7 linked regions of the Homo sapiens genome follow. The protein of the gene in region 1 purifies or fractionates together with the protein of each later gene. This does not show direct contact. Each region holds a gene or a part of one and is shown in the gene's direction. Other genes may lie near its edges.

Region 1 (4,165 bases):
TACCTTTTGTCAAGAAGACAGATAATAACAAGTGTTGGTGAGGATGTAGAGAAATTGGAACCTTCATACACTGCTGATGGGAATGCAAAATGGTGCAGCCACTTTGGAAATCTGGTAGGCCTCATAAGCTTAAGCCTAGGGTTACCCCATGACCCAGCAACTCTACTCCAAAGAAATAAAAACATATATCCACACAAAAACTAGTATGTTAATGTTCATAGTAGGATTATTCATGATAGCCAAAAATAGAAACAACCCAAATGTCCATCAACTAATGAATGGATAGACGAAGTATGGTGTATTCATACAATGAAATATTATTCAACCATAGAAAGGAATGAAGTATCATTACATGCTCCAACCTGAATGAAACTTCAAAACATTATGCTAAGTGAAAGAAGCCAGATACAAAATGCCATATTTTCTGTAACTCCGTGTGTATGAAATGTCCAGAAGAGGCAAATCCATAGAGACAGAAAGTAGATTAGTGGTTGCCAGGGGTTGGGAGGTGGGGGATGGGCAGTGACTGCTAAATGGGTGCAGGGTTTTGTTTTGGATTGATGAAAATATTCTAAAATCAAGTGAGGTAGTAGTTGTACAACTCTGCAAACATACTGAAAACCACTGAATTGTACACTTTAACTGAATTAATTGTATGATACATGAATTATATCTCAATAATGCTGTTACCAAAAAACATCGTTTCAGATCTGGCCAGTCGGTGCCCCTTTGAGCTAGCTCTTGTGTCCATTTGACATGCCCCAATACATATTTCGAGCACTTTTTAAATTTCTTGTACAGCAAGATAATCCAGACATCTCATAACCCTTTCCTGCTCCAGCCTGGGAATCAGCCATATTTCCTAGAGTCCTGGTTCCCTTTTGTGTGGAATGTGAACCAAGATCTGGGCATTATTTCATTTAATCATCAAAACAACCCTTTTAGGTAGGTATTAGCATATCTTCATTTTACAAATGAGGCCCAGAAAGGTTGAGTATGTTGCCCAAAGTCACATAGCACCCCAGGATTTGAAAGCAGGCAGTGTGAATCTAGGGCCCTTGCTATTCAACACACACACACGCGCACACACACATACACAATGTGAAAGTGAAGGTTACGTCTACAGCCAGCCCACCAAGAATTGTACCAGGCAGGGTATGCCCTTGGGAAAAATCATGTGTCATGTGTCTGGGGGAGTGGGGTTGTGGGGAGATTAGCACCCAGTGTCCTGGCCCTCTTTCTAAAAGCACATGCTCAGATACACACACACATATGCTGGTGAAGATAGTCTTCAGTAATCTCCTTTGCCAACCTCACTCCCCATCCCAATACCCAAATACTACCCATAGCTGGGTGCCCATATAAGAGGACCTATGGATGAAATGAGATTGGCCAGGTGTGGTGGCTCACACCTGTAATCCCAGCACTTTGGGAGGCTGAGATGGGAGGATCACTTGAGGCCAGGAGTTCAAGACCAGCCTGGTCAACAGAGTGAGACCCCCATCTCTAAAAAATAAAAAAATAAAAAACAAACAACAACAAAGAAAGATTGGCCTTGGTTTTTGAATGTTGAAGCTCAGAAGTGGGTATATGGAGGTTCATGATACTATTCTCTTTCCTTTTTTAAAGGTTTAATTTTCCATGATAAATAAAAATCTATAAAATAATAAACAAGAGAAAAGAGATTGGAAACAGCCAGGTTGGAGCAGTGAGTGAGTAAGGAAACCTGGCTGCCCTCTCCAGATTCCCCAGGCTCTCAGAGAAGATCAGCAGAAAGTCTGCAAGACCCTAAGAACCATCAGCCCTCAGCTGCACCTCCTCCCCTCCAAGGATGACAAAGGCGCTACTCATCTATTTGGTCAGCAGCTTTCTTGCCCTAAATCAGGCCAGCCTCATCAGTCGCTGTGACTTGGCCCAGGTGCTGCAGCTGGAGGACTTGGATGGGTTTGAGGGTTACTCCCTGAGTGACTGTGAGTACCATCCGCCCCTCCCCAGCCATTTCTCCTCTGCTAGTCATGTCCTATATGGCCAGCTTCTTTCTCTCCTGTTCATCTTTCAAAGCCAAGTTCAAAAAGCAGCCCCCTTCAAAAAAGCCTTTCCCAACACGCTGTATTCACTCAAGTTATTGTCTGAGCACTTATTATGTACCAACAACTGTTTTAGGCACTGGGGCTGTAGAGATAAACAAATTCCCTTCCCTTATAATGTTCACATCCTAGGGGAAGAGAGCAGCAACAAACACACTCATAACGTACTGCCTGGTGGTGACCAATGCTATGAAGAAGAATAAAGCAGGGGGAGCAATGGTGAATTCTTTAGATGGGGAAGTCAGGGAAGGCCTCTCTGAGGAGATGACATTAAGCAGCACTGAATTAAATGAAGGACCTGGTCACCCAAATGTCTGGGGGAAGAACACTCTAGGCAGAGGGGACAGCTAGTACAAAGGCTTTCTCCTCCTGCATGGAAGGGATATCTCCCTTTTGCCCAGGAGTTGTGTGCACCTGTCTTGCAACACTTTTGTCCTTTAATCTTGCTTTGTGGGTTTTTTAGGTACCTTTTTTTTTTTTTTTTAGACAGAGTCTCGCTCTGTCACCCAGGCTGGAGTGTAGTGGCGCGATCTTGGCTCACTGCAAGCTCTGCCTCCTGGGTTCACACCATTCTCCTGCCTCAGCCTCCCCAGTAGCTGGAACTACAGGCACCCACCACCATGCCCAGCTAATTTTTGTATTTTTAGTAGAGACAGGGTTTCACCGTGTTAGCCAGGATGGTCTCGATCTCCTGACCTCGTGATCCGCCCGCCTCAGCCTCCCAAAGTGCTGGGATTACAGGCATAAGCCACCGCGCCCGGCATACATATTTTTAAGCTTGTACATATTTTTAAGCTTGTACATACAAGCTTATTACAAGGCCTGTATTACAAGCTTAGGTACATATTTTTAAGCTTGTAATACAGGCCCCTTGAAGGCAGCATCTGTGTTTGACCCAACTGAAATGTCCCTCACTAGGCTTTGCACAGTTCCTGGCACACAGTAGGTGCTCAGTAAGTGCAAAACACATGAATAGATGGACAGATGAGTAATTGTACTTATGAGTGGGTGGATGGACCACAGGATAAGAGGGCAAGTCAATGGAGATTTCAAGCCCTCTAGTCCTATCTTGCCTCCCAGGCCTTGTTCCTTTTGTCTGAAACCTTGCCTCCCTTTCTCCTCCATCTCCCTTCTCACTCAGCTTGGTCCCCTCTAAATCCTGACCTTCTTCTCCCTACTCTAAGGGCTGTGCCTGGCTTTTGTGGAAAGCAAGTTCAACATATCAAAGATAAATGAAAATGCAGACGGAAGCTTTGACTATGGCCTCTTCCAGATCAACAGCCACTACTGGTGCAACGATTATAAGAGTTACTCGGAAAACCTTTGCCACGTAGACTGTCAAGGTCTGGCCAGGGCCCCAGGGTGGGAGAGATGAGAGCAGCAACCAGGCTCTGCTCACAGAACTTCTCTTCCCACCCACAGCCTGGGAATGGCCCCAGAAATATGGTTCAAAAAATCAGGGAATCCCTTTACTGAGCAGAGGGCTGGAGTAGTGTCCCTAATGCCCATCCAGTTAGGAGATTCTATAGAGTCCCTGAGTAGGATCCAGGAAGGCTCCGTATACAGCTGGTAGTAGTAGAACAGTTGCAGCAGCCAATGTTTATTGAGAGAATATTATACACTAAGTGCTTTACATACTTGGCTTATTTCATCCAACTTTCATGCAGTAGAAACCATTTATGATCCCTACTTTACAAAACAGCAAACTGAGGCTCAAAAAGAGAACCAGCATTGAATGCCAGACTAATGGCCTCACAGGCTCTTAACCATTCCGGAGTACCCTCTTTAGCTAATGATCTGACCAAAGACCAAGTGCAAACTCCCTACCTCAGAGCTGATCCAGGAGGCTCGACAGGGCCCATGACTCTGCCCCTCACCTCTGCCTTCGCACACTGACCGATGTCCCTCGGCTCCTCGCCTGAAGACCCCCGCTCACTAGGCGGGACATACCTCTGTGGTGTTTTGGCATTTCCTCTCCCTGGAAACCTCCCACAAACTTTGAGTGAACCACTATCTACCCTGGTTAGGAAGAATAGTAGTGAACAGGCCCAAATCTCAGGCCTCTTGCCCCTTCTGCC
Region 2 (4,317 bases), on another chromosome or scaffold:
ATGGATAAAGTTACTTGTGCTTCAATTTGTTATTGAACTACCACAGAAGCAGTGCAGAGAACATACATGAGATCAAAGATACGTGTTGGTGCAGAAGGATGTAGTTCTTCAGTGCCTCCCTTCTTATGAAGGCACAACTGATATTTAGTGATCTCAGCAAGCCTCATGGAGTGAGGAATACATAAGAAGCTTGGAACCCTGGGCATGCTACCTTTTAATTTATAAGGAGGGAAGAGGGTGACATTAGCACTAAATGTTCTACCCTATACCATATAAACAAATTCTTGCTGTACTAAAATTATATAACTTAAACAACCATACAGATCAATAAAGAAATAGATAACACCACAAGCCAACTAAACATAATAAACATATGGACAACACTGTACCCAACAATAGCAGAACACACATTTTTCTTAACTGCACATAGAACATTCTCCAGGATAGACCATATTAGACCACAAAACAAGTCTTAATGAATTTTAAAAGATTGAAATCATACAAAGTAAGTTTTCTGAACACAAAGGAAAGGAACTAGAAATCAATAGTAGAAGGAAAACAAGAAAAATTCACAAATATGTGGAAATTAAACAGCACACTCTTGAACAATGAGCCAAATAAGTCTCAAGAAAAGTTAGAAAAACATCTTGAGACAAATGAAAAGGAGAACAAAAGATACCAAAACTTATGGGATACAGTGAAAGCAGTGTTAAAAGGGAAATTTATAGCTTTAAGCACTTACATGAAAAACAAAAGATCTCAAGTTAACAACCTAACTTACACCTTGAGGAACTAGAAAAAGAGCAAATGAAACCCAAAAGTTAGAAGAAAGAGGGAAATAATAAAGATTAGAGCAGAGAGAAACAAAATAGAAAATAGAAAAACAAGAGAGAAAACAAGTGAAATCAAGAGTTAATTCTTCGAAAAGGTCAACAAAAAAATTAACAAACCTTTAGTTAGATTAAGAAAAATGAGAGAAGACTCAAATAACTAAAATTGGTAATGAAAGGACATTACATCTGATTCTACAGAAATAAGAGGGATTATAAGAGAATACGCTGAAGGATTGTATGGCAACAAATTGGATAACCTAGATTAAATGGATACATTCTTAGAAACACACACTCTATCAAGATTAATCATGAAGAAGTAGAAAATCTGAACAGACCTGTAACTGGTAAGGAGATTGAATCAGTAAACAAAAACTTCCCAGCAGATAAAAGCCCAGGACTAGGTGGCTTCACTGGTGAGTTCTACCAAACATTGAAAGAATTAACACCAGTCCTCCTCAAATTCTTCCGAAATATTGAAGAGGAGTAAACACTTCCAGATTCATTCTATGAAGCCAGCATAACCCTGTTATCAAAGCCAAAGACACTACAAGAAAACTACAGAGCAATATTCCAGATGATTATTGATGCAGAAATTCTTAACAAAATACTTGACAACAAAATTCAGCTGCATATTAAAAGAGTTATATACTATGACCATGTTGGATTTATTCCTAAAATTCAAGGATGATTCAACATAAGAAAATCAGTGTACCATGCCACATTTACAATGTAGGGAGGGGAGAACACATGATCATCTTTATTCATGCAGAAAAAGCATTTGACATGATTCAACACTCTTTCATAATAAAAAACACTCAGTACACTAGGAATAGAAGGAAACCACCTCAACATAGTAAAGGTCATATATGAAAAGCCCACAGTTAACATCAGACTAAATGGTGAAAGACTGAAAGCTTTTCCTTTAAGATCTAGAATAAGACAAGGATGCCTGCTTTTTCCACTTCTCCCGAGCCAGAGAAATTAGGGAAGAAAAAGAAAGAAAAAAGACATTCAAATTGAAAAGGAAGAAGTAAAATTATCTCAGCAGATAACATGATCTTATATGTATGTACAAAACCCTAAAGATTTCACGAACACAATACAAAAGTCTGTTAGAAATAATAAATGAAGGCCAGGCATGGTGGCTCATGCCTGTAGTCCCAGCAATTTTGGAGGCCAAGGTAGCCAGATCAGTTGAGTCTAGGAGTTTAAGACCAGCCTGCGCAACATGGCAAAAACCATCTCTACAGAAAAATACAGAACATTAGCTGGGCATGGTGATGCTTGCCTGTAGTCCCAGCTACTCGAGAGGCTGAAGTGGAGGATCACCTGAGTCCAGGAGTTCAAGGCTGCAATGGGCCATGATGGTGCCACTGCACTCCAGCCTGGGTAACAGAGTGAGATCCCATCTCAAAAAACAAACAAATGAATTCACTAAAGTTGCAGGGTAAAAAAACTAGCACACAAAAATTAGTTGCACTTCTGTATACTAACAATGAACAGGAAATTAAGAAAACAATTCCATTTATAACAACATAAAAAAGAATAAAATACTTAGGAATAAATCAAGGAAGTAAAATACTTGTACATGAAAAATTATGAAATGCTGCTGAAAGAAATTAAGAAACAAATATTAATCAATGGAAAGACATTGTGTTCATTGGGATTGGAAGACTTAATAAGATGGAAACACAACCCAAAGTAATCTACAGATTCAGTGCAATCCCTGTCATAATCCTAATAGCACTTTTTGCAAGAATAGTAAAATTCATATAGAATCTCAAGGGACCCCAAATAGCCAGAACAATCTTGGGAAAGAATAAGTTTGGAAATCTCACATCTCTGTTTCAAAACTTATTACAAAGCTATAGTAATCAAATCAGTGTGAGACTGGCATAAAGACAGACATATATATCAATGGGATACAATAAAGAGCCTAGTAATAAATTCCCACATATATGTTCAAATTTTTTTTATAAAAGTGCCAAGACCATTTTGTGAGAAAGGACAGTCTTCTCATGAGATGATATTGGGGAAACTGGCTATCCACATGCAAAAGAATGAGGTTGTAACCTTACCTTAAATCATAGACAAAAATTAACTCGAAATGGATTGAAGACTTAAACATAAGAAAACTATAAAACTGTTAAAAGAAAACATGGAAAGCTTCATGACATTGAATTTGCCAGTAATTTTTATATGACACCAAAAGCACAGACAACAAAAGAAAAAATATATAAATTGGAAAACTCAAAATTAAAAAGTTCTGTGCATCAAAGAACACAACAAAATGAAAAACCTATGCAATGGGAGAAAATATTTGCCAATCATATATTTGATAAGGGGTCAGTATCCAGAATTTGTAGGAACTCCTACAACTCAAAACAAAAACAAAACCTGATTTTTTAAATAGGCAAAGGACTTGAATAGACATGTTTCCCTTGAAGATGTATAAATAGCCAACAAGCACATGAAAAGATACTCAGTATCACTAATCATCAGGGAAATGCAAATCAAACCACAATATGATACTACGCCATATTAGGACCTATTACAATGACTACTATTTAAAAAAACATAATTTTGAACAAATGTTGGCAAGGATGTGTAGAAATTGGAACCCTTGTGCCTTGTTGGTGGGAAGGTAAAATGGTAAAGCCACTGTGGAAAACAGTATGAGGATTCAAAAAAAAATAGAATTATCATATGACCAAGCAATTCAACTTATGGGTATATACTCAAAAGAATTGAAAACAAGGTCTCGAAGAGTTATTTGTATACCCATATTCATTGTAGGATTATTCACAACAGCCAACAGGTGGAAGCAACCCAAGTGTCCACTGACAGATGAATGTATAAACAAAATGTGGTGTATACACACAATGGAATACTGTCCAGCTTTAAAAAGGAAGGAAATTTGATACATGCTACAACATGGATGAAGCTTCAGGGCATTATGCTAAGTAAAATAAGCCAGTTACAGAAAGACCAATACTGTATGATTCCACTTATATGCAGTACCTAGAGTAGTCAAAATCATAGAGATAGATATTAGAAAGATGGTTTCCAGGGGCTGGAGGGAAGGGTAGTGGGGAGTTGTTAAAAGTGTATAGCGTTTTAGTTTTAGAGCATGAAGAAAGTTTTGGAAATTAGTTGTACAACAATGAGAATGTTTTACCACGTGATTTAAAACAATTTTAAATGCATAAATTAACTACTTCATTTTCTTGTAGTATTACCCCAGCATCTGACCTCTCAGAGTTTCAGTACAGACTTGTCAATAGCATACCTCTCTCTAAGAAATGAGATGTCACAAACCTCATAGTTTTGTTTGGAACTTAATAACATGTTGGCACCATTGTGAGACAGATTTCAAGACTGTGAACTTCAGTATCTAATTCTCAATTGTCAGCTGGTGCAGCACTGAAGAATGATAGGATACTGCAGCATTACGCAGAAAGTATTAAGTCTGTATTTCTGATTT
Region 3 (4,317 bases), on another chromosome or scaffold:
GTGGCGTTTCTCCATCAGTCACGAGATGACTTGTTGTTTCGTCTGTAACGTGGCGAGTTACATTAATGCTGTGGATGCTGAAGCAAGTTCACATTCCCAGAACATCTGAGCCTCTTCCTCTGCGGGAGTCTGGAAAGCAGAGGTGACCGTCCCTCACACCTGGCAGTGCTCCTGCATGAGGCCACCTGCGCCGCCAGGGTCTCTGTGACTGATCACCCTTGCGGGCCGTAGGACACGCAGAGTTTCCATTCCTTCTTGACTTGAGGCAGTTTTTGTGGTGAACATTTCCCTGGGAATTTGTTCATCTGTTTTCAAATCTTTTGGCAAAAAAAGTCATAGTATTATCTTAGTTTTATAGCCTCTCAAGTAGCCGGGACTACAGGTGCCACCACGCCGAGCTATTTTTCATTTTTTGTAGAGCTGGGGGTCTCGCTATGTTGCCCAGTCTGGTTTTGAACTCCAGGGCTCGAGCACTCCTCCTGCCTGACCTCCTAAAGTGCCGTGACTGCAGGTGTGCGCCCGGCCTCAAGGCCTGTGTCCTCACCGACACGCATCTCCTGAGACAGCGGGGAGCAAGGTCATGCTTAGGGTCAGCGTGGCCGTCTTTCTCTTTTAAGTAACAGGCCCGTATATCTCAACTGACATATTTGGACGTATTTCCACATCTTTGTGTTTTTCTCTTTGTTCTTTGTATCTTTCTCTCTCGTTTTTTTCTGTTATTTTCCCTCCTCTAATGGATAAGGAAGATCCTCTGTTTCCTCAGTGGTTATCAATCAATCAGCCATGTTAACTTACTGAAGGTCTCAGTTTGGGCAGCATCTTTGCCACCATGACCCCCCGAGGTCCTCAGCCCGCCCAGCCCGCCTCTGTCCAAGGTCCTCAGCCCACCCAGCCTGCCTCTGTCCGCCCCAAGCCACTTGCGTCCTTTGCTCCAGTGTTTCAGCTCTGTTTCGTTTTATTAATTGACTTATTTTAGAACACTTTTAGATTTTCGGAAAAACTGTGCAGAGACTACAAAGGTTCCCTTATCCCCCCCTCCCAGTTTCCCTGCGCTCAGCGTCTTGCATCGGCCAGGACCTTGTATAGTTGATAGGCAGGACTGATAAACTGTTGCCAACTAAAGTCCCGGCTGACAGGAGAGCCATTCGCAGTGTTGCTCATTCTGTGAGCTCCGACAAACGGACGACGACACGTGTCCCCATCACAGCTTCATGCAGAGTCGCTTGTGGCCCTGGAAGTTCTCTGTGCCCCGCCGACCCTCCGTCTCCACGGTACTGCCTCTTCCGGACATCCTAGAGTGGGAAGCATTGTGCAGCCTTTGCGGACTGGCTTCCTGCCCTCCGCGGCCGCGCGTGGGCTCCTGCACCTCCTGCAGGCTCCACTGCTTGTTTCTCTTCGGTTCCGAGACGCCCGTGGTCCGCACGTGCCCCGGTTTGTTTCTCCACTCAGCCTCTGAAGGGCAACAGACGGAGCCCCGGGCACATGTGCTTCCCACAGGGCGCACAAGGAGGGTTGTGCTGAGCACAGGCGTGGGGCCAGGGCCGGCTGTGCCAGCCCCGGGTCCCACTGCCACCCAGGGAGGGGTGTCCAGCCTGAATGGAGGGGTGTGTTCCAGGATTCCTGACCTGGGTGGGGCCACACACACGGGTGACTCCTGAGCCGTCTTCAGCCATGCGGTCCTGGGGTCCCAGCTGCTGGAGGAGGGCCGGGCTGGAGACTCCCGGGAGTCACCCCGACCCCACACACCTCCTGCGTGGGCTGTGCTGCCCCAGGGTCCCGCCTGCCCCTGCCGGTGGAGAACACAGAGATGCCCACGCCAGGCTCGGGTCTGGTTCCGAGGCCGGTCCAAGGGCACCCCTGGACACACAGCCCAGGCAGGGGTGTTGGTCTGCTTGGCTCCGTGGCTGCCTGGCAGTGGGGAGTGCTCAGGATCCCACCTCCCGCTTCCATGGCCCGTGTACCCTGTAGCGTCCCTCCCTCAGGCTGTGCTGGCCAGTTCCACCACTGCCCCTCTCCCGATAAGCTGATGCTGCCTGGGAGAAGCTCTCATGAAAAGCAAGGTGCTGAGTTACTTAAGTAAATGGAGAAAGTGGGAGTCACTTGAGGGCTGAGCTACCGTGACATGGAATGGGGAGGTGACCCTTGAACCAGAGGCCTCAAAAACGTCCTTGTTTATTCAGAACGCAGGAACCTGGCCAGGGGGTTAGATGAGAATTGGACCAACGGGCCCTGGTGCAGGCAGACAGGGACCCTCCCAAGCATGACGGCCAGGCTGCGGGTTCCCTTAGTGCCGGTGCTGGCCCCGTTTTGGAGTCCGCTGCCTGGTGGGGTGAGTGGCGGTGGACAGTGGGGATGCTGAAAGGGGAGGGGACAGAGCTGGGCCTCACTGCACCTGGGACTGTGAGCACCACCCTCAAAGACCCGGCACAGGCAGCGCCTCCCTTCCAGGCCTCGGAGGTCAGGCTGCGTCATCCTCTCCAGCCCCACACTGTGTCCAGGACGAGGTGGAAGCACCAGGGTCGTGGCTGTGCTCTGCGGCGTGGCCTGGCGTCCCCCCTTGGAAGACAAGATGGTCGGCCGGCAGTCCCGGCTGCGATGTATCCTGCCCCCTCACAGGCAGTGTGGGGTCTTGAACTAGGGCTTTTGCCCCCACAGGCGTACAGGGCAGAGGGTGTCTGGGGGATGATATGGTGTGGGGCTGAGAGTGACCCGCGCCCTCTAACATTGTAGTGTCCTGGCTGGGGCTGCGTACTCCCCTGTGCCGCGCTGTGACAGCCGAGTGCCCTGAGACTTCTGAGCGCCGCCTGCCTGGAGCCTGTCCTGGTTCCGTGTGTTCCCATCTGAGCGCCGCCTCCCCGGATCCCGTCCTGGTTCCGTGTGTTCCCATCTGAGCACCGTCCCCCGGAGCCTGTCCTGGTTCCCGTGATCCTTCCGTTGGGGAGTTGCGGCATGAGCAGCCTCCCTCCTCCCACGCAGTTTACACAGCTGTTCCGGAGGGTTCCGCGGGGCCCTGGGGCCGCTGCCTGCCTGGAGAGGTGCACAAGAGCAGTGACCGCAGAGCCCGGCCGCCCAGCCAGCACCCCACGGGAGCCATCAGCCTCCACTAGGGCACTGGTGACAGGGAGACGCAGCCCCGGACTGCCAGGGCGGGAGGGGCAGGGGGTGAGCTCAGGTCTGGAACCTCTGAGGCGCCTGCCCACAGCGGGCTGTCCGGCCCCACCCCACCCCGCCCTGCCCAAAGGGCTCCTTGCCCTGTGGTGGCTGCACCCCACGCCCGCTCAAGACAGAGGCCCGGAGGCCCTGCCAGCCCCGCACACACAGGCCGGCTGTCCTGAGGCTCTGTCCCAGAGCTGGGCTCACCGGCCCTTAGCTGTGTTTCGGTTGTGATGAAACAACACAGATAACGCAAAGTAAGTTCATGCTTTTGAAGTGAACTCGGGGGCCTCCAGCACGTTCACAGCGTGATGCAACCGCCGCCTCCGCCTGGTTCCAGAACTTCCCATACCCCCCCCACACCCGGCAAAGGAGACCCTCACACCCGCCGCCGGGCCTCCACCAGCCACTGGGAGCTTCATCTCTGGATTCCCGACTCGGACGTTCCATGCAACTGGCATCCTACAATGTGCGGCCTCCGTCCAGCCTCCCTCCCTGAGCACCATGACCCTGGGTCTGTCCCTTTCGGGGCACGTGCTGAACTCCGATTCCTTTGCAAGGCTGCATGCGTTTCCGTGGGTCAGGCATAGGGCTCTGGGTCACTGCTGTCGTGGATGCTGATGGACTGGTGTTAGACCTCAGCAGATTCTCTACCTCCCACCATGTTCTTCTGCCCTCATCTCCTCTCTGTGACACTGAAGAGAGACCTGGGTTCACGCCCACCAGAGTGCCCACCTGGAACACAATGCATTTCCTCAGCAGAGGGTCCCCGCGAGCGCAGGGGTGTCCTCGGCGGAGGGTCCCCGCGAACAGGCATGTCCTCGGCGGAGGGTCCCTGTGAGCGCGGGCGTGTCCTCGGCAGAGGGTCCCCACAAGCCACCTGTTCTCCGTGGCAGCTGACAGGCAGGAGGCTGCATCCAAAGATGCCACTCTTCCTTCTTGGGGCCATGCGCCGTTGGCCTCGGAACACCTGCTGCTCCGTCTCTTGGGCCCAGGATTCCATCACCTCAAGCTCCTCTTCCTGTGCCGGCCTTGGGGACCCCCTCGGGCCTCGCCTCCGCTCCCAGCCACCGGCCGGGTCATCTGTGGGCCGCACAGCCTTGTGAGGACTCCGCCGGCGGGGGCGAGCACAGATGGGCAGTGAGAAGACTGATTTCCCTCTGA
Region 4 (3,460 bases), on another chromosome or scaffold:
TCTGCTCCTTGGTCCTCAGAAGCCCGGTGGCGCCTGTCCGTCTTTGTCAATAACATGGTGCGAGCACAGAAGATCCAGGCCCTGGACCGTGGCACAGCTCAGTATGGAGTCACCAAGTTCAGTGATCTCACAGGTAGGGATAGTGGCCACAGTCCTCATGGATCCAGGAAGAGACAGGACCTTGCTCGCAAGGCCTCTGGTCAGGTCTGGCTTAGAACACTCTTCCTCCCCATGCCCTGCCCACCTTTGCCCGCAGAGGAGGAGTTCCGCACTATCTACCTGAATACTCTCCTGAGGAAAGAGCCTGGCAACAAGATGAAGCAAGCCAAGTCTGTGGGTGACCTCGCCCCACCTGAATGGGACTGGAGGAGTAAGGGGGCTGTCACAAAAGTCAAAGACCAGGTTGGACCCCTGGAAGTGAGGGTGGGACATGGGCACTGCACTGGGGCTGACGAAGGGGCCCGGCTCTGACTCCAACTCCACCCATCTCTTGTAGGGCATGTGTGGCTCCTGCTGGGCCTTCTCAGTCACAGGCAATGTGGAGGGCCAGTGGTTTCTCAACCAGGGGACCCTGCTCTCCCTCTCTGAACAGGGTGAGCATCTCGCTCTACTCCTCTGTCCCCAGCCTAGCCCCTCAGGAGGGCTTCTTGGGACCAGCCTTCTGTCTCCTAGAGCTCTTGGACTGTGACAAGATGGACAAGGCCTGCATGGGCGGCTTGCCCTCCAATGCCTACTCGGCCATAAAGAATTTGGGTATGCATTAATGGGGTCAGGAGGGGCAACCGGAGCCACTTCTCCCTGTACAAGAAGTTACTTCATAATGGGGGGGAGACATGAGCATGAGAGTTACACAGAACTGGGTCCAGGTCTTAATGCTGACCCAGCCAGGCGTGGTGGCTCATGCCTGTAATTCCAACACTTTGGGAGGCCAACTTGGGAAGATCACTTAAGGCCAGAAGTTCAGGACCAGGTTGGGCAACATAGCAAGACCCCATCTCTACAAAAAATTAAAGACATTAGCCAGGCATGGTGGCTTGCATCTGTAGTCTCAGCTACTTGGGGGGCTGAGGCAGGAGGATCGCTTGAGCCCAGGAGGTTGAGGCTGTAGTGAGGCATGTTTGTGCCACTGTACTCCAGCCTGGGTGAAAGACTGCTGGGATGAGCTCTTGGTGAGGAGTCAGAAGTTGGAGTTGAGTTCTGTCTCTGCCACTTTTCTTGCTGGCTACTGGTCCCTCCTCCCCATCTCTCCCAGCCTCAGATGTGTCATTTCTAGAATGAAGACATTCTTCAGAGGGGATGGCCTGTGGCCTGGGGTGGACGAGGAATGTGAAACCTCGCGTAGAGGGCTTAGTTCATTTCTGGCTGTGAATGGCAAATGGGAGCCTGCCCTTCTCTACTCACCCCCACCGTTCCCCAGGAGGGCTGGAGACAGAGGATGACTACAGCTACCAGGGTCACATGCAGTCCTGCAACTTCTCAGCAGAGAAGGCCAAGGTCTACATCAATGACTCCGTGGAGCTGAGCCAGAACGAGCAGAGTGAGTGAGGGGCAGGGTGAGGTGAGGTCAGGTGGGGCCGGGGCCTGGGTGCCTACTGATGCCACCCCTTCCCATCTCAGAGCTGGCAGCCTGGCTGGCCAAGAGAGGCCCAATCTCCGTGGCCATCAATGCCTTTGGCATGCAGGTGAGGCCCTAGCCCCACTGCCCCTGCCCCATCTCTTGTTGACCTCCCCGACCTCTTCTTGGAGTCGATCCCCTACTCCTTCTCCACCTCCAGTTTTACCGCCACGGGATCTCCCGCCCTCTCCGGCCCCTCTGCAGCCCTTGGCTCATTGACCATGCGGTGTTGCTTGTGGGCTACGGCAACCGTGAGTTCCGCTGCCTGTCCTGCATCCAGCCAGGCCACAGGCAGGGGTGGGATCACAGCATCTCAGGTCCTCTAGAGGGGAAATAGGGGGAATGCCTAGGAACCCTGTCCTTACCCACTGCCTGGGCCATGACCAGCTGGGCATCATCTGTCCTCTCTATGGCAGGGAAGCTGAGCTGTGGGAGGGTAAATATTGATGGCCTAATAACCTGCAATAGGCGGGTGGGTGCGTGCTTCCTCCCTGCCCCAGGGCTTCTCCCTGAGGCTGGTAGGTGGGCCCCTCGCTTTCTGCTCTTTTCCTAGTCCCTGTCACACAGTAGGCCCAGTGCAAGTATTTGAAGGGTGCAAAGTGATTAAGGCTCTGCCTGGAGAATTAAGGACCCTGATCCTTGCGCTCTGCACTGCACCCCAGGCTCTGACGTTCCCTTTTGGGCCATCAAGAACAGCTGGGGCACTGACTGGGGTGAGAAGGTGAGTCTTGCTGGCTTGGCCCCTGGCCCTCCAGCCGCCATCCTACCCTGGTGCCCTCACCAGCTCCCCCTCTCCCCCAGGGTTACTACTACTTGCATCGTGGGTCCGGGGCCTGTGGCGTGAACACCATGGCCAGCTCGGCGGTGGTGGACTGAAGAGGGGCCCCCAGCTCGGGACCTGGTGCTGATCAGAGTGGCTGCTGCCCCAGCCTGACATGTGTCCAGGCCCCTCCCCGGGAGGTACAGCTGGCAGAGGGAAAGGCACTGGGTACCTCAGGGTGAGCAGAGGGCACTGGGCTGGGGCACAGCCCCTGCTTCCCTGCACCCCATTCCCACCCTGAAGTTCTGCACCTGCACCTTTGTTGAATTGTGGTAGCTTAGGAGGATGTCGGGGTGAAGGGTGGTATCTTGGCAGTTGAAGCTGGGGCAAGAACTCTGGGCTTGGGTAATGAGCAGGAAGAAAATTTTCTGATCTTAAGCCCAGCTCTGTTCTGCCCCCGCTTTCCTCTGTTTGATACTATAAATTTTCTGGTTCCCTTGGATTTAGGGATAGTGTCCCTCTCCATGTCCAGGAAACTTGTAACCACCCTTTTCTAACAGCAATAAAGAGGTGTCCTTGTCCCGAGTGTGGTATAAATGCTCAGTCCCCGGGGGTGAGGAGAGATGGCAGGGACTCCTGGCGGGTCAAGGTGGGATAGCTGGTCCTGCCCAGGAGCCTGAGGGGCCAGCTTCTGCTTCAGGAACTAAAAGGAGATGGGGAGAGACCCAGAGAGGGATCTTTATTCAGAAGCACTTGGCTGGCTTTTCTCTTAGGCCCTTGCTCCGAGGGACGGATGGGATCAGCCACAGGGTGCATCCTCTCTCCATCTTGCATAGAGAACCTCAGTGGTTGGGGTCAAAGGTCGCTCTCCCCATAGAGGGCACTGGAGAAGGCCACGTAGTCCAGGGCTCCAGCCGGGGCCCCGGATCCCTTGTAGGGCACCATACGGCGGATGCAGTACTCGGCCTGCTTGGCAGGGAGCTCGCGCCGCAGCTCCTCGGGGGTGATGTAGTTCTGGGGAGAAGAGGCGTTGAGGACCCACAGGTCCCGTGCCCTGCCCTAGCCCACCAGCCCCTCCACCGCCT
Region 5 (4,317 bases), on another chromosome or scaffold:
TGTGGTTTCACTTTCTACCGTTTTAGTTACCTGTGGTCAACTGCAGTCTGAAAATATTAAGGTATTTTGAGAATGAGAGACAGATTGCATTCATATAACTTTTATTATGATATGTTGTTGTAATTGTTCTATTTTATTATTTTTAATCTGTTACTATGACTATTTTATAAATTAAACTTTATCACAGATATGCATGTATAGGAAAAAGCATTGTATGTATGGGGTTTGGTACTATCCATGGTTTCAGGCATCTAATGGGATTCTTGGGACATATCCCAGTGGGGACTACTGTACGTTGTATTAGTCCATTACTCTTTCTCATACTATATTTAACTCAAGTTTACTTCACAATAAGTAGAGATCTAAATTTGAGTCATTTCCTTCAAACTGAATGCCATGAAACTAATTTTTCTAATCTGTATTTAACACTAATTTTGTAGTCTTTTAGTACATGCTTGCATGCCTCTTTTGGAAAGATACCAGTTTTATCAACAACCTAGCGCATGTCACATCTCTGTCTAGATCTGAAATGGTAAGCTTCAGCACACTTTATAAGTCTTCTCTTTGGAATTTATGAATGTTCTTTCATGGAAATATGTGGGATGGGGGGAGGATGACTAAGAAATATTTAACATGTTTACACAGACCTGTATGTTAAATATAGTTATAAGGAAACAAGTTTGAGAAAAACAATTGTCCATACTCCACAGATGGGTGTGTTTGTTTGTTTGTTTGTTTGTTTCAGGTTCCTGGGATTTTAACAAAGCTCTTTTCACTTTTAAAGATTTTTAATTTCCCTTCTCAGAAATTCATTTTAATTTCTCCCCTCCCATGAAATGTCTTCAACATATATATAATGTTCTATATCAGAGGTAGTGTTTCCTAACTTTCTGAAATTGTTAAACCTTCCTGCATTATTTTTAAAGCCTGTGAGAAAATTATACCTCAATAACATGTATTGAGAGTTTACTATTTGTCAAGTTTAATGCTAAGTATTTTGCATGGATTTTTCTCCCTTTATCCTCCCAACAGACTCCTGAGGAGGAAATTTATTATCTGCATTTTATAGATGAGGAAATTGAGGCTTAGAGATGGGCAAATGTAAACTTCAGCCTCAGACAGTGTGACACCAGAGCTTACTCAATTATATGGGTAGAAATGCCTTCTAGTGGTAGAAATGGCAATACTGTATGTATTTCTAGGTCAGGACTTTCTGACCAAAAAGTTAGTTTATTACTTTTAATATACTTAACTCCGAATTATCTAAAACCCTTCAAGTCCTTCTTGACATATAATATGTAATATATTAATTATATTAGAAATGTAATACCTAAGCCATTAGGTACATCTCTATGTATGTATATGCATTGTGTGTATGTGTATTTACATTTTAATTGCTAAGCCAAAGATAGAATGCTTTTGCTCTGCTAGTGTATATTATTTCTTCTTTTACTCTATTCTATTCGAGTAAAATATAATATACATAATTTTCATCATATATGACAATCTTAGGAAGGCTCTTTAATTCAGTTAAAAAAAATACTTTGTCCATTACCATAAATTTTCTATTATTAAAACTTTTGGCTCTTTTAAAACTTTCTGCCTTCTTTCCTCACGTCAGGTAAAATTCCCCCAGAAAGTACACTGATATTTAATATTGATCTCCTGGAGATTCGAAATGGACCAAGATCCCATGAATCATTCCAAGAAATGGATCTTAATGATGACTGGAAACTCTCTAAAGATGAGGTGACCTTTCCTTCTTCCTACTCCTCTTTCTACTTTTCTTTGGTTGTTTGGGGTTTTGTTTTGTTTTGTTTTTGTAACTCACTTTTTAAATGAATATGTGTATATTTCAAATCTACTTTTATTTAGGTAACATTTATTTATAAGTTTTCTTAAAATACTGATGCTTTGAAAGTGGACTTTTTCATAGTGAATCACTGTTTTGGAGAGAAATATATTAAGACTTAAAAAGCACCATTCAATCTTTTGCTTTTTTCTTCCCAATGCTTAGGGTTCACTGTATCTTATGCTTACCCTTGGGTCTTTGAAAGAACAATTTTGCCAAGACAGTTTCCATCTGGAGTTACTGTATAAGAAGCTAGCTGTCCTGAGAAATATCTCATGTGGACAGTTTCTGTTAAAACTGTAGACTGGCTGTTAAATACATCTTGTAGTGTTTTCCTGGCAATTAACAGCAAGCAACTTACATGCTCTGTTTTGTTCAGGTTGCCCCAGAGAAAAGAGACCCCAGCCTGGGTTTTACACAGCAGGGCTCCAGCCCCATCAAAATCTGAGCCTTTGGGTAAAGAGAAAGGAAGAAGAGGCTTCTCCTTATAATTCGGCCATTGCTACACATACCTGTCTTAGTCTGGCTGCTGCGGGGAAAGAAGTGGAGGGAGATATTTATTCCTGTTTTTTATCTACTCACACTCCATTCTGTCCTGACTGGTCAGATATCAAGTCCCTTTCTATGCTTTGATCAAATTCATTCTAATGGCCAGGAAATGATTAAGTCTTGAATAAGCCAAATTGTTACGAACCAGGGGTTCATGATCCACAGCCACTAAATTTATAACACCTCATAGTATTACCAGTCACATGCCTTTTTCTTCCATCCAAGATAAATTTTAATTCCCTTTCATTAAATAATTTTGAATATATAACACAGTCACATGGTTCAAAACAAAAATCTATTTATTTATTTATTTATTTATTTATTTATTTATTTATTTATTTATTTCCTGAGAGGGAGTCTTGCTCTGTTGCCCAGCCTGGAGTGCAGTGGCAAAATCTCGGCTCACTGCAACCTCTGCCTCCTGGGTTCAAGCAATTCTGCCTCAGCCTCCCAAGTAGCTGCACCATCATGCCTGGCTGATTTTTGTATTTTTAGTAGAGATGGGGTTTCACCATATTGGCCAGGCTGGTCTCAAACTCCTGACCTCGTGATCTGCCCACCTCGGCCTTCCAAAGTGCTGGGATTACAGACGTGAACCACTGTGCCCAGCAGAAAGATATTTATTTAAAAGTCTTAGCTGGGTGAGGTGGCTCACACTTGTAATCCTACCACTTTGGAAGGCTGAGGCAGGAAGATTGCTTGAGGCTGAGACTTCAAGACCAACCTGGCCAACATAGGAAGACTTTATCTCTATTATTTACTGTTTTTTTTTTTTTTAGACGGAATCTCACTCTGTTGCCAGGCTGGATTGCAGTGGTGCGATCTCAGCTCACTGCAGCCTCTGTGTCCCGGGTTCAAGCGATTCTCCTGCCTCGGCCTGCCAGGTAGCTGGGACTACAGGTGCACGCCACCATACCCAGCTAATTGTCGTATTTTTAATAGAGACAGGGTTTCACCATGTTGGCCAGGATGGTTTCAAGCTCCTGACTTTGTGATCCGCCTGCCTTGGCCTCCCAAAGTGCTGGGATTACAGGTGTGAGCTACCGCATCCGGCCTATTATTTACATATTTTTAAAAGTCTTTCTCCTACCTACATCCTCTTCTATTCTATTATCCCCACATCCAGTTTTATTAATTACTTTTTTCTTTCTTTCTGTTTTTTTTTTTGTAGAGATGAGGTCTCGCTATGTACAAGCATGCACCATTGCACCCGGCTTAGTTTTATTAGTTTCTAATATATCCTTTCAGTGTTTCTTTCTGCAAATCCAAATACATAGTCTTATTTCCCCCTTTCTTACACAAAAAGAAGCAAACTATACATGCTGTTTTGTCGTTTTGCTTTATTCACACAATATATCCTAGAAATACATTCTACATTAATCCATAGAGTTTAATGGATTAATGGATCTCTCCCCCACCCCTTTTTTTAACAACTGCATTAAATCACTTTAACTTAAAAATAAATATATACTATATGTGTACTTCTTGAAAGCTGGGGGAGAGAGGATTTGAAATTGCTGGTCTAAACAGAAGGAAGAGAGGTGATATAATTAAAACTGAAAATATAGGCTGATTTTCATTGTGGTGAATCTTGTGGGAAATTGAAAACAATATTTATATTTTTAAATATCTGAATGAAATGAAAATGGAGTCCGGGCATGGTGGCTCACACCTGTAATCCCAGCACTTTGGGAGGCCAAGGCAGGCAAATCTTCTGAGGTCAGGAGTTCGAGGCCAGCCTGGCCAACTTGGTGAAACCCTGTCTCTACTAAAAATACAAAAATTAGCCAGGCATGGTGGCAGGTGCCTGTAATCCCAGCTACTAGGGAGTCTGAGGCAGGTGAATCGCTTGAACCTGGGAGTTGGAAGTTGTAGTGGGCCGAGATCGTGCCACTATACTCCAGCCTGCGTGACAG
Region 6 (4,966 bases), on another chromosome or scaffold:
AAATTGGTCAATGAGAGACTCATCAGCATGGCCTACGGGCAGATTGGTGAGGCACCGGGGACTCCATCTCCTTACCACCCAGTGCCGGGCCTAGAGCAGTGCCTGGCCCACCGTGGGTGCTTGGGACCCTGGCATTGACTCAGGGGAGCAGACGTGGGCAGGACCAACCAGTGAGCTATCTGTGGGGGGGGTCTGCACCCCATCCTTCTCCACCTCCTCCTCTCTGCTGTTGATGTGTGCGGATCCCCAGAGGAGTGGAGCAGCCACCCTTGGGGGCTGTCCCAGCAAGCAGAGACTTCATGGCAGTGGTTCCAGGCCCAGGGAGGTCATTCCTGCGTAGGGAGCTCAAGCTGGGGATCCCCCAAGAATTCATGATGTTTAGGTGGCCTAGGTCAGGTGAGAGAGGGGCTCCAGGTTATCCCTCTGGGAGAGCCCTCTCTCCAAAGCCCCTGTCCCAGGTGGCCCACCCATCTCAGGGCCTCACCACCAAGTGAGACCTCAGGTCACCCTCTGGGAACCAATGTCCAGATAACAGGGCCAGGAGGGCATACTCCCCTCTCCAAGGAGGCCTCCGGGCCCTCTGAGGTGCCCTGGGTTGGCTGCTGGCCCCAATCTGAGCCTCTCCTCGGCTTCCTCTCTCCTCCTTCCAGGAATGATCCAGGCTCTCGGTGGCTTCTTCTCTTACTTTGTGATCCTGGCAGAAAATGGCTTCTTGCCCGGCAACCTGGTGGGCATCCGGCTGAACTGGGATGACCGCACCGTCAATGACCTGGAAGACAGTTACGGGCAGCAGTGGGTGAGTAGGGCAGGGTGCTGTGTCTCTGCCCACCGTAAGATCCCCGGGGTGAGCTGTTCCAGCCATGCATGGCCACTTCCTACGATGGCCCCCTCAGTCTCCCATGGCAGCATCAAGGCCTTTGCTGGGCACCTGGGGCTTCCTGGATGCCCTTGGCCCAGCCCATCTGGAGCCTTGTGTCCCACTGCTGGAGCTCTCTGCCCTGCCAGGCCTTCTTCCCCACCTCTGTCTGTCCCTTCAAAGCCCAGTTGCTGTCTGTCCTCCTTGGGAGGCCCACAGGGTCCTTATCCTCCTCCCTGGCCCCTGGTGGATGGTGAGATCACCATTAACCTTTCTTCTTCCTTGTACGTCTCCTGACTCCTCCCTCGGGACTATGAGCCCGCAGAAGGAAGACACACCTGAGGCCCTGAGGACCCCATGCAGGATGGGGCGGGGCAAAGAGCACCGGAACGTCGGGGTGGCGGCTAGGGCTGCAGTGCCACTAACTGACGTCCCGTGCCCTGGTCACCGCTCCTGCAGACATACGAGCAGAGGAAGGTGGTGGAGTTCACCTGCCACACGGCCTTCTTTGTGAGCATCGTTGTCGTCCAGTGGGCCGATCTGATCATCTGCAAGACCCGGAGGAACTCGGTCTTCCAGCAGGGCATGAAGTGAGGGCCGGGGGCACATGGTGACTGGACAGCCATCTGTCCTGTCCGAGTGTCTGTCTGTCTGTGTACTTCCTCTTGTGTCCTTGCTTTGGTTTTTTGTTGTTTTGTTGAGGCAGGGTCTCACTCTGTCACCCAGACTGGAGTTCAGTGGTGTAATCATAGCTCACTGCAGCCTCGACCTCCTGGGCTCAAGTGACCCACCCACCTCAGCCTCCTGAGTAGCTGAGACTACAGGTGTGCACCATCATATATGGCTAATTTTTATTTATTTATTTAGAGACAGAGTCTTGCTCTGTTGCCCAGGCTGGAGTGCAGTGGCACAATCTTGGCTCACTGCAACCTCCGCCTCCCGGGTTCAAGCGATTCTCATGCCTCAGCCTCCCAAGTAGCTGGGATTACAGGTACGCACCACCAGGCTCGGCTAATTTTTCGTATTTTTAGTAGAGTTTCACCATGTTGCCCAGGCTGGTCTCAAACTCCTGAGCTCAGGCAATCTTCCTGCCTCAGCCTCCCAGAGTGCTAGGATTACAGGTGTGAGCCACCATGCCCAGCCCATTTTGGGTTTTGCCACTGCACTGATTTTCTCTCAAGGGGTCCTGTGTGTCCTAGATTCTCTCTCAGCCTCTGTGTGTGTGGTGGAGGTGCCCCTGGCCTTTTCTTTTTATACCAGTGCCTCTCTGTGTCTGTCCCTGTCTCTGTGTCTGTTTCTGTCCCTGTCTCTGTGTCTGTCCCTGTGTCTGTCTCTCTGTCTGTCCCTGTCTGTCTCTGTGTCTGTCCCTGTCTCTGTGTCTGTCCCTGTCTTTTGTCTCTTTCTGTGTCACCATCGCTCTGCCTCTATCTTTGTCTCTCTCTGTCGGGGCATGTCTCCCCATCTCTGTCTCTCCCTATGTCTCTGCCTCTCTGTCTCTGTGTCTGTGCTGCTGTCTCTGGGTGTCTGCACTGTGCCTCCCCCTGTCTCTGCGGGGTGGCAGGTGCAGGGTGGGTGCTCTCTGGGCCCAGCCCTGCCCTTCTGTGCCTCCAGGAACAAGATCCTGATCTTCGGGCTGTTTGAGGAGACGGCCCTGGCTGCCTTCCTGTCCTACTGCCCCGGCATGGACGTGGCCCTGCGCATGTACCCTCTCAAGTGAGTGCCCCGCTGCCCCCAGCCCTGCCCACACCAGCGCCTGCCATGGAGCCTTCCCTTAGACTCAGCCTGAACCTCAGGCCCCACCTCCCCTGGTGTCCCCACTGCAGTCCCCATTCTGATGCCCCCGAGCCTCCCCCATAGGCTGCTCCCACCACGGATTACTCCGAAGACCCCAGGCCCCAGCCCCGCCCAGGGCACCCTCCACCTGTGAGCACGAAGGATCCTGGGAGACTGCCCCTCTGCGTCCCCTCCAGTCCCCTGAAACTCTGCCTCTCGTTAGGGCCCCGCACTCAAGCCCTCCTGCTCTCCCCTCTGCAGGCCCAGCTGGTGGTTCTGTGCCTTCCCCTACAGTTTCCTCATCTTCGTCTACGACGAAATCCGCAAACTCATCCTGCGCAGGAACCCAGGGGGTGAGGGAGCTCGGCAAGGCAGCCGAGGGGGGCGGGGGGCAGCAGGGTCTCAGGCAGCTGGTCCCAGGCTCCCCTCGCCCTGCTGGATGGCTCTGCCACCTGGTTCCCACTCTTCTCTCTCTTCCCATCTCTCCGGGCACCCACTCTGTCTTCTCACGGGTCTCTGTCTGTGTGGTTTCCTTGTCTCTCTCCCTCTCTGTCCCTCTCTCTGCTGGGCGGCTCGCCTTGCCTGTCTCTCTCCATCTCTTACTCTGTCTCTTTCTTTCCTTCTTTGTCTCTCCAGGTTGGGTGGAGAAGGAAACCTACTACTGACCTCAGCCCCACCACATCGCCCATCTCTTCCCCGTCCCCCAGGCCCAGGACCGCCCCTGTCAGTCCCCCCAATTTTGTATTCTGGGGGGAGGAGCCCTCTCTTCCTGTGGCCCCACCTTGGCCCCCACCCCCTCCACTATCTCCTGCCGCCCCCACTCTGGCTGGCTTCTCTCCCCTGCCCCAAACCTCTCTCCTCTCTCTTTTCTGTGTCAGTTTCTCTCCCTCTCCTCACCCCTCTATCCATTCCTCCCGCCCCAGCCACCTCCCTGGGCTCTTTTTTACTCCCCTTCAGCCCCCCGGCTGATGCCATCTCTGGTTCTGGACAATTATCAAATATATCAGTGGGGAGAGAGAAGCGGTGTGTGTGTTGTGCCTGCTTTCCAGACGGGGACTGCGGCTGGGACAGCATCCCCTCTGTTGGGGCGCGCTGCCAGGCGACTCTCGAAACTGCAGGAACTTAGCCTGGCACTGGCTTGGAAGTCACGGAATCTCAGAGCCATCTAATCACGGAGTTTTCAACTCCACGAAAGTCAGAGCAGCTTGAATTCACCAGGCGATGGCATTGTGGAATCAGAACAGGGGAGAGGGAGGGAAGCAGACGTGGGATGGTGACTGGGAGCCTCTCCTATAGGAGTAGGACCCAGGGGACACAATGACGATGATGATGGTGATGACAGTGATTCACTGAGTGCCTGCTATGTGCTCTGCCCACTTCTAAGTGTGCATTAAATGTGCACAGAGAGAAGAAGTGATTTGCACACAGCTAAGAAGAGACAAATCTGGGATTTGAACCAAGGCTGTCCAAAGTTCTAGGTCACTACGCTATTCTCTCTTTTTATTGAGATAAACTTTCATACAGTGAAGTGCACGCATCTTAAGGGTATAGCTCAATGATTTTAAAAATTGCATCTGCAGGCCAAGCGCGGTGGCTCCCGCCTGTAATCCCAGCACTTTGGGAGGCCCAGGCGGGCGGGTCACTTGAGGTCAGGAGTACGAGACCAGCCTGGCCAACATGGCGAAACCCCATCTCTACGAAAAATACAAAAAAAAAAAAAAAAAAAAACTGGGCGCAGTGGCTCACACCTGTAATCCCAGCACTTTGGAAGGCCGAGGCGGGCAGATCACAAGGCCAGGAGATCGAGACTATCCTGGCTAACATGGTGAAACCCCGTCTCCACTAAAAATTAAAAAAAAATTAGCCTGGCGTGGCGGCACTCATCTGTAATCCCAGCTACTTGGGAGGCTGAGGCAGGAGAATGGCATGAACCTGGGAGGCGGAGCTTGCAGTGAGCCAAGATCCCACTACTGCACTCCAGCCTGGGTGACAAAGCGAGACTCCGTCTCAAAAACAAAAAAACAAAAAAACAAAAAACTTAGCTGGGCATGGTGGTGCATGCCTGTAATCCCAGCTACTCAGGAGGCTGAAGCAGGAGAATTGCTTGAACCCGGGAGGCAGAGGTTGCAGTAATCCGAGATCATGCCACTGCACTCCAGCCTGGGCAACAGCGAGAACCCGTCTCAAAAAAAAAAAAAAAGTTGCATCTGCAAAGCTACCACCCACATCAAGGCATAGAACCTTTCCCTCCACCCAGAAAGTTCACTGGAGCCCCTCCAGTCGCCTCCCCTCCAGAGGCAAGAGCTGATCTGGTTTCTGTTACCACACATCAGTTGT
Region 7 (4,130 bases), on another chromosome or scaffold:
GCCGCCCGCCCAGCCCAGCCCACACTCTGGACTGCCAAGCTGGACCGCTTCAAGGGCTCCAGGCACCACACCACCCTCATCACCTGCCACCGTGCTGGGCTCACAGAGCCAGATTCCAGGTGGGCAGTTTCCCTCCACCCAGGGGGCAAAGGAGGGAGGGCTGGTTATAGAGTGCAGTTGAGCAGATTTGGAGGCTGCCATGCTGCCTCTAGATCCCCAGGTGAGCAGACCCAAGGACAGATTTTTTCAAGGAAGCAGCACAAAGCAGGCATAATCCATTCCTTCATTCATTCATTCGGCCACTATCTTCCCAGCCCCAGCCATGTGCCAGGCATAGCAAGTGTCTGTGAGTCTTATTCTAAGAGATGCCAACCAATCCTGTGCCCCAGGTAGAGCCCTCATAGCCACTACTCCATCCCCCTGCTTCCACCAAATGATCCTTTCTCTGGGCCGTTCACATTCCCCCAAAAAGCCCAGCTGCAGTTCTGCGGTTGTGAACTCTTCTTATTCATGCCCTGAGCCTGGGTCAAGGCCATGGACTCAGTAGCCCCAGTTCGAATTCTGGTTCTGATGCTTTTGGGATGGGCAAAACCTTGGGCAAGCCAGTTAACATTCCCCTACCCAAGCCTCAGTTTCTTCACTTGTGAAATAGGAATAATAATGCATCCCTTAGCATTTTTGAAAATAAAATACAGTGCTACATATCAGGCACCCAGGACGGTTCCCAGCACATAGGTTTTTGTTTGATCAAAGGAAGCTTATCATTCAGAGGGTCAAGTGTCTGGTCCTGGGACCTGGAAGTGAATCTCCCGCATGCCACCTCAGTGGCTGTGGAAAGCGGAAGTCTGGGGGAAGCGGGCCCGGGCAGGCAGGGGAGTGAGCCACCTTGCCAGGTGGGAGGTGGTTAAATGGCTTCATGGATCTTAGAGAGGCCAAGAGTGGGTCAGAGTTTGGGGTCTAGAGCGAGGATGCTTGGGTTTAGATCCCAGCCCCGCTACTTTTTGCTGTGTGGTCTTAAGTGAGCTATGTAACCTCTGTGCCTCAGTTTCCTCCTGTGTAAAATGGGGATAATCATGAATGCAGGAAGTGCTGAGGCCATGCCTGGCAGCTAGCAAGCATTTGGCTTCTCTGTCTCCTTTGGCCAGCAGTCCCCTTGAACTGTCTGAGTTCCTATGGGTGGACTTTGTGGTGGAGAATAGCACTGGTGGGGGCGTAGCGGTCACTCGCCCCGTCACGTGGCAGCTGGAGTACCCAGGCCAGGCCCCTGAAGCAGAGAAGGACAAAATGGTGTGGGAAATCCTGGTGTCTGAGCGGGACATCAGAGCCCTTATCCCACTGGCCAAGGTAAGGAGACCTCCATCTCTGCCTGGGAAGGCTGGAGGCCAAGTCCCAGGAGCCCCATGAGCTGAGGGGCCTGGGGCTGAGCCCCTCCTCCACCCCCAGGCTGAGGAGCTGGTGAATACAGCACCACTGACTGGAGTGCCCCAGCATGTCCCCGTGCGCCTTGTCACTGTGGACGGCGGGGGGGCCTTGGTGGAGGTGACAGAGCATGTCGGCTGCGAGTCTGCCAACACACAGGTCCTGCAGGTGAGTGGCAGGTGCCCAGCTCATGTGAGTCTGCATTTGTGTGGGCACAGTTACGCACACACACCTTTCCTCCTTCCTCATGTGGGTCCCCAAGAGAACAGCTTCTTCTTGAGACGAGAAACCTCATGGGAGGAACCACAGCTTCAACTTCTTTTGTTCCAGCCACCTCTCTCCCGAGTCAAGTAACCCTAACAGCCCCCCGACCTTAGACACTTTCACGCTCATTATTGCACTGGCAAGTGCGCTGGCCTGAGAGAGTCGAGAGCACATACTCTGGGATCAGAAAGTTTTAGTTTGAAACACATCTTTGTTGTCAACCAGCTTTGTGATCATGGGCTGGTCTCTTAACCTCTCTGAGCCTCGTTACCTAAACTTTAAAATGAGAACATATCTTCGGGTTGTTGTAAGAATTAAAAGCACTTTAAGACAGTATTTAGCAGATAGCAGGGGCTGAAACAATGGCAGTTATTGCTGTTATAATATGATGTAATAATTATACAATGGTAAAAATTATTATTATTATTATTACCGGTGATTGTGAAGTGAAATAAAAGGGAGGGTGGTAGAGCAACTTCCTCTATCTTGAAGTTCTAAGAGGGGAAGCATGGAGTCTGCATGTATGCAAATCCCAGCCACCTGAAGGGGGAAGGTGCCTTTCCCCACTTGTGGTCCTTTGCTCAAATGTGTGTGGTTCCTGCTGGAGGGCCTTGGTGGGAGATCTGCTTTGTCCCACCTCTGCCTACCTGGCTGTAGCTGGTTGCCAGGTGGCTCCAAGAGCAATGTCAAAGGCCAGCATGAATAAGGAGCCAAAGTTTTGGGTTCACACCCCTGCTCTGCCAGGAGGAAGACTGGTATGCAATGGCCAGTTCCCCTGACTGAGCCCCAGGGAACCTCAAGGAATGGCCCCTACAGTAAAATCTTAAACAAAGAACAGGGGCTTAACCAACAATCCTGCTGCAACATGCATTCCAGTGACACACAGAGCTGAACTCAGTGGGAGCCCGTCCTACGGCCTGAGGTCAGGGCTGCTCTCTTCTGGCCCATGCCTTTTTTTTTTTTTTAATCTATTTATTTTGAAACAGAGTCTCACTCTGTCCCCAGGCTGGAGTGCAATGGTACAGTCCGGCTCACTGCAGTCTCAGCTACCCAGGCTCAAGGGATCCTCCCACCTCAGCCTCCCCAGTAGCTAGGACTACAGGCATGTGCCACCACACCCGGCTGATTTATTGTATTTTTTGTAGAGAGGGAGTTTTGCCATGTTGCCCAGGCTGGTCTCAAACTCCTGGACTCAAGCGATCCACCCACCTCGGCCTCTCAGAGTGCTGGGACTACAGGCATGAGCCACCCACCCGGCCCAGCCTCACACCTGTCTTTAGTGGCTTAGCCCGCCCACCTGCCCTCTGCCCTTCCATAGGTGTCTGAGGCCTGTGATGCCGTGTTCGTGGCTGGCAAGGAGAGCCGGGGCGCCCGGGGGGTGCGAGTGGACTTCTGGTGGCGCCGGCTCCGCGCCTCGCTGCGGCTGACCGTGTGGGCCCCCCTGCTACCGCTGCGTATCGAGCTCACCGACACCACCCTCGAGCAGGTCCGCGGCTGGAGGGTACCTGGCCCTGCTGAAGGGTGAGTGGAGGCCTGAGGAAGCTGGCAGGCCTTGGCGAGTCACACTGGGACGGAGAGGGCGCAGGGGACACAGCCATGGGCCCAAGTCGGGGTCAGAAAAACTGCCCTGTTGCTTGCAGTTCCTTCTGCCCACCTCCACCCTGGGCCGCCCAGCCAATGATCGCTTTCTGTGAAATTGCTGACTTCCGCATCCCTCTCCTCCTTCCCTGCCTCACTTCTCCCGTAGCACCCTCCACTTCCTAATCTACGTCAGTACTGGTTAATGTTGCCTGTCCATCCTTTCCACGCTCCTCCCCCGAGAATGTCAGCCCCTTGAAGCTGCGGTCTGTCTATGCTGGTCGTACCCTCAGAGCCTAAGATGACACAGAGCTCAGGAAATGAACACCCTCGGAGGGGGCTCCCCAAAACCCAGGGAGAGGTGGCCCACGCCTCTGGAATCTAGCTTCCAGGCCCTTCAGAGAGTGAGCGCCCCCAGGGTCCCCGTAAGAGAGCGTCTCCCCTGCGGTCCACTTGGGAGCAAGAGCGGTGATCGAGGCACAGCGCCAGTCGGGAGTGGGCTGGGGCGGCTCGCCTGCAGGTGGAAGGGCCTGACCCCAAGAGGGGCGGATGTCTGCGTTTGAGAAACAGGAGCTGCTGGTGATTAGGAGCCGCCGGGGACGAGCTGCGGGTCTCCAGCAGCTGGGCCCTGGGCAGGCTGGGGCCGCTCAGCGCTGACGGCCAGTCCCGGCCTCCCCGCCCTGCAGGCCTGCGGAACCCGCTGCAGAGGCGTCGGATGAGGCCGAGCGGCGCGCCCGTGGCTGCCACCTGCAGTACCAGCGGGCCGGTGTGCGCTTCCTCGCCCCCTTCGCGGCCCACCCGCTGGACGGCGGCCGCCGCCTCACGCACCTGCTTGGCCCCGACTGGCTGCTAGACGTGTCCCACCTCGT

What was found.
Region 2: the proteins of LYZL6 (region 1) and CLGN purify together in Homo sapiens (affinity purification with mass spectrometry; one large-scale study listed by BioGRID and IntAct). This does not show direct contact.
Region 3: the proteins of LYZL6 (region 1) and LMF1 purify together in Homo sapiens (affinity purification with mass spectrometry; one large-scale study listed by BioGRID and IntAct). This does not show direct contact.
Region 4: the proteins of LYZL6 (region 1) and CTSF purify together in Homo sapiens (affinity purification with mass spectrometry; one large-scale study listed by BioGRID and IntAct). This does not show direct contact.
Region 5: the proteins of LYZL6 (region 1) and FKBP14 purify together in Homo sapiens (affinity purification with mass spectrometry; one large-scale study listed by BioGRID and IntAct). This does not show direct contact.
Region 6: the proteins of LYZL6 (region 1) and ATP1A3 purify together in Homo sapiens (affinity purification with mass spectrometry; one large-scale study listed by BioGRID and IntAct). This does not show direct contact.
Region 7: the proteins of LYZL6 (region 1) and TMEM132A purify together in Homo sapiens (affinity purification with mass spectrometry; one large-scale study listed by BioGRID and IntAct). This does not show direct contact.

The regions. Positions count from the first base shown.
Region 1 is NC_000017.11:35,937,023-35,941,187, reverse strand, and holds part of LYZL6 (lysozyme-like protein 6 precursor), read left to right. Parts: intron 1-1,629; 5' UTR 1,630-1,831; coding exon 1,832-1,970; intron 1,971-3,271; coding exon 3,272-3,430; intron 3,431-4,165. UniProt on the Homo sapiens protein: May be involved sperm-egg plasma membrane adhesion and fusion during fertilization. Exhibits bacteriolytic activity in vitro against Micrococcus luteus and Staphylococcus aureus.
Region 2 is NC_000004.12:140,420,563-140,424,879, reverse strand, and holds part of CLGN (calmegin precursor), read left to right. Parts: intron 1-4,317. UniProt on the Homo sapiens protein: Functions during spermatogenesis as a chaperone for a range of client proteins that are important for sperm adhesion onto the egg zona pellucida and for subsequent penetration of the zona pellucida.
Region 3 is NC_000016.10:873,266-877,582, reverse strand, and holds part of LMF1 (lipase maturation factor 1), read left to right. Parts: intron 1-4,317. UniProt on the Homo sapiens protein: Involved in the maturation of specific proteins in the endoplasmic reticulum. Required for maturation and transport of active lipoprotein lipase (LPL) through the secretory pathway. Each LMF1 molecule chaperones 50 or more molecules of LPL.
Region 4 is NC_000011.10:66,562,964-66,566,423, reverse strand, and holds the end of CTSF (cathepsin F precursor), read left to right. Parts: intron 1-19; coding exon 20-133; intron 134-256; coding exon 257-402; intron 403-496; coding exon 497-593; intron 594-672; coding exon 673-753; intron 754-1,417; coding exon 1,418-1,537; intron 1,538-1,617; coding exon 1,618-1,682; intron 1,683-1,775; coding exon 1,776-1,866; intron 1,867-2,277; coding exon 2,278-2,336; intron 2,337-2,416; coding exon 2,417-2,491; 3' UTR 2,492-2,960; downstream 2,961-3,460. Other genes in the region: ACTN3 (alpha-actinin-3), read right to left, coding at 3,231-3,389. UniProt on the Homo sapiens protein: Thiol protease which is believed to participate in intracellular degradation and turnover of proteins. Has also been implicated in tumor invasion and metastasis.
Region 5 is NC_000007.14:30,016,428-30,020,744, reverse strand, and holds part of FKBP14 (peptidyl-prolyl cis-trans isomerase FKBP14 precursor), read left to right. Parts: intron 1-440; exon of another isoform or gene 441-532; intron 533-1,621; coding exon 1,622-1,749; intron 1,750-4,317. UniProt on the Homo sapiens protein: PPIase which accelerates the folding of proteins during protein synthesis. Has a preference for substrates containing 4-hydroxylproline modifications, including type III collagen. May also target type VI and type X collagens.
Region 6 is NC_000019.10:41,965,265-41,970,230, reverse strand, and holds the end of ATP1A3 (sodium/potassium-transporting ATPase subunit alpha-3), read left to right. Parts: coding exon 1-46; intron 47-650; coding exon 651-796; intron 797-1,315; coding exon 1,316-1,446; intron 1,447-2,467; coding exon 2,468-2,569; intron 2,570-2,890; coding exon 2,891-2,982; intron 2,983-3,265; coding exon 3,266-3,294; 3' UTR 3,295-3,649; downstream 3,650-4,966. UniProt on the Homo sapiens protein: This is the catalytic component of the active enzyme, which catalyzes the hydrolysis of ATP coupled with the exchange of sodium and potassium ions across the plasma membrane.
Region 7 is NC_000011.10:60,930,541-60,934,670, forward strand, and holds part of TMEM132A (transmembrane protein 132A isoform b precursor), read left to right. Parts: coding exon 1-119; intron 120-1,145; coding exon of another isoform or gene 1,146-1,148; coding exon 1,149-1,344; intron 1,345-1,443; coding exon 1,444-1,587; intron 1,588-3,001; coding exon 3,002-3,204; intron 3,205-3,947; coding exon 3,948-4,130. UniProt on the Homo sapiens protein: May play a role in embryonic and postnatal development of the brain. Increased resistance to cell death induced by serum starvation in cultured cells. Regulates cAMP-induced GFAP gene expression via STAT3 phosphorylation.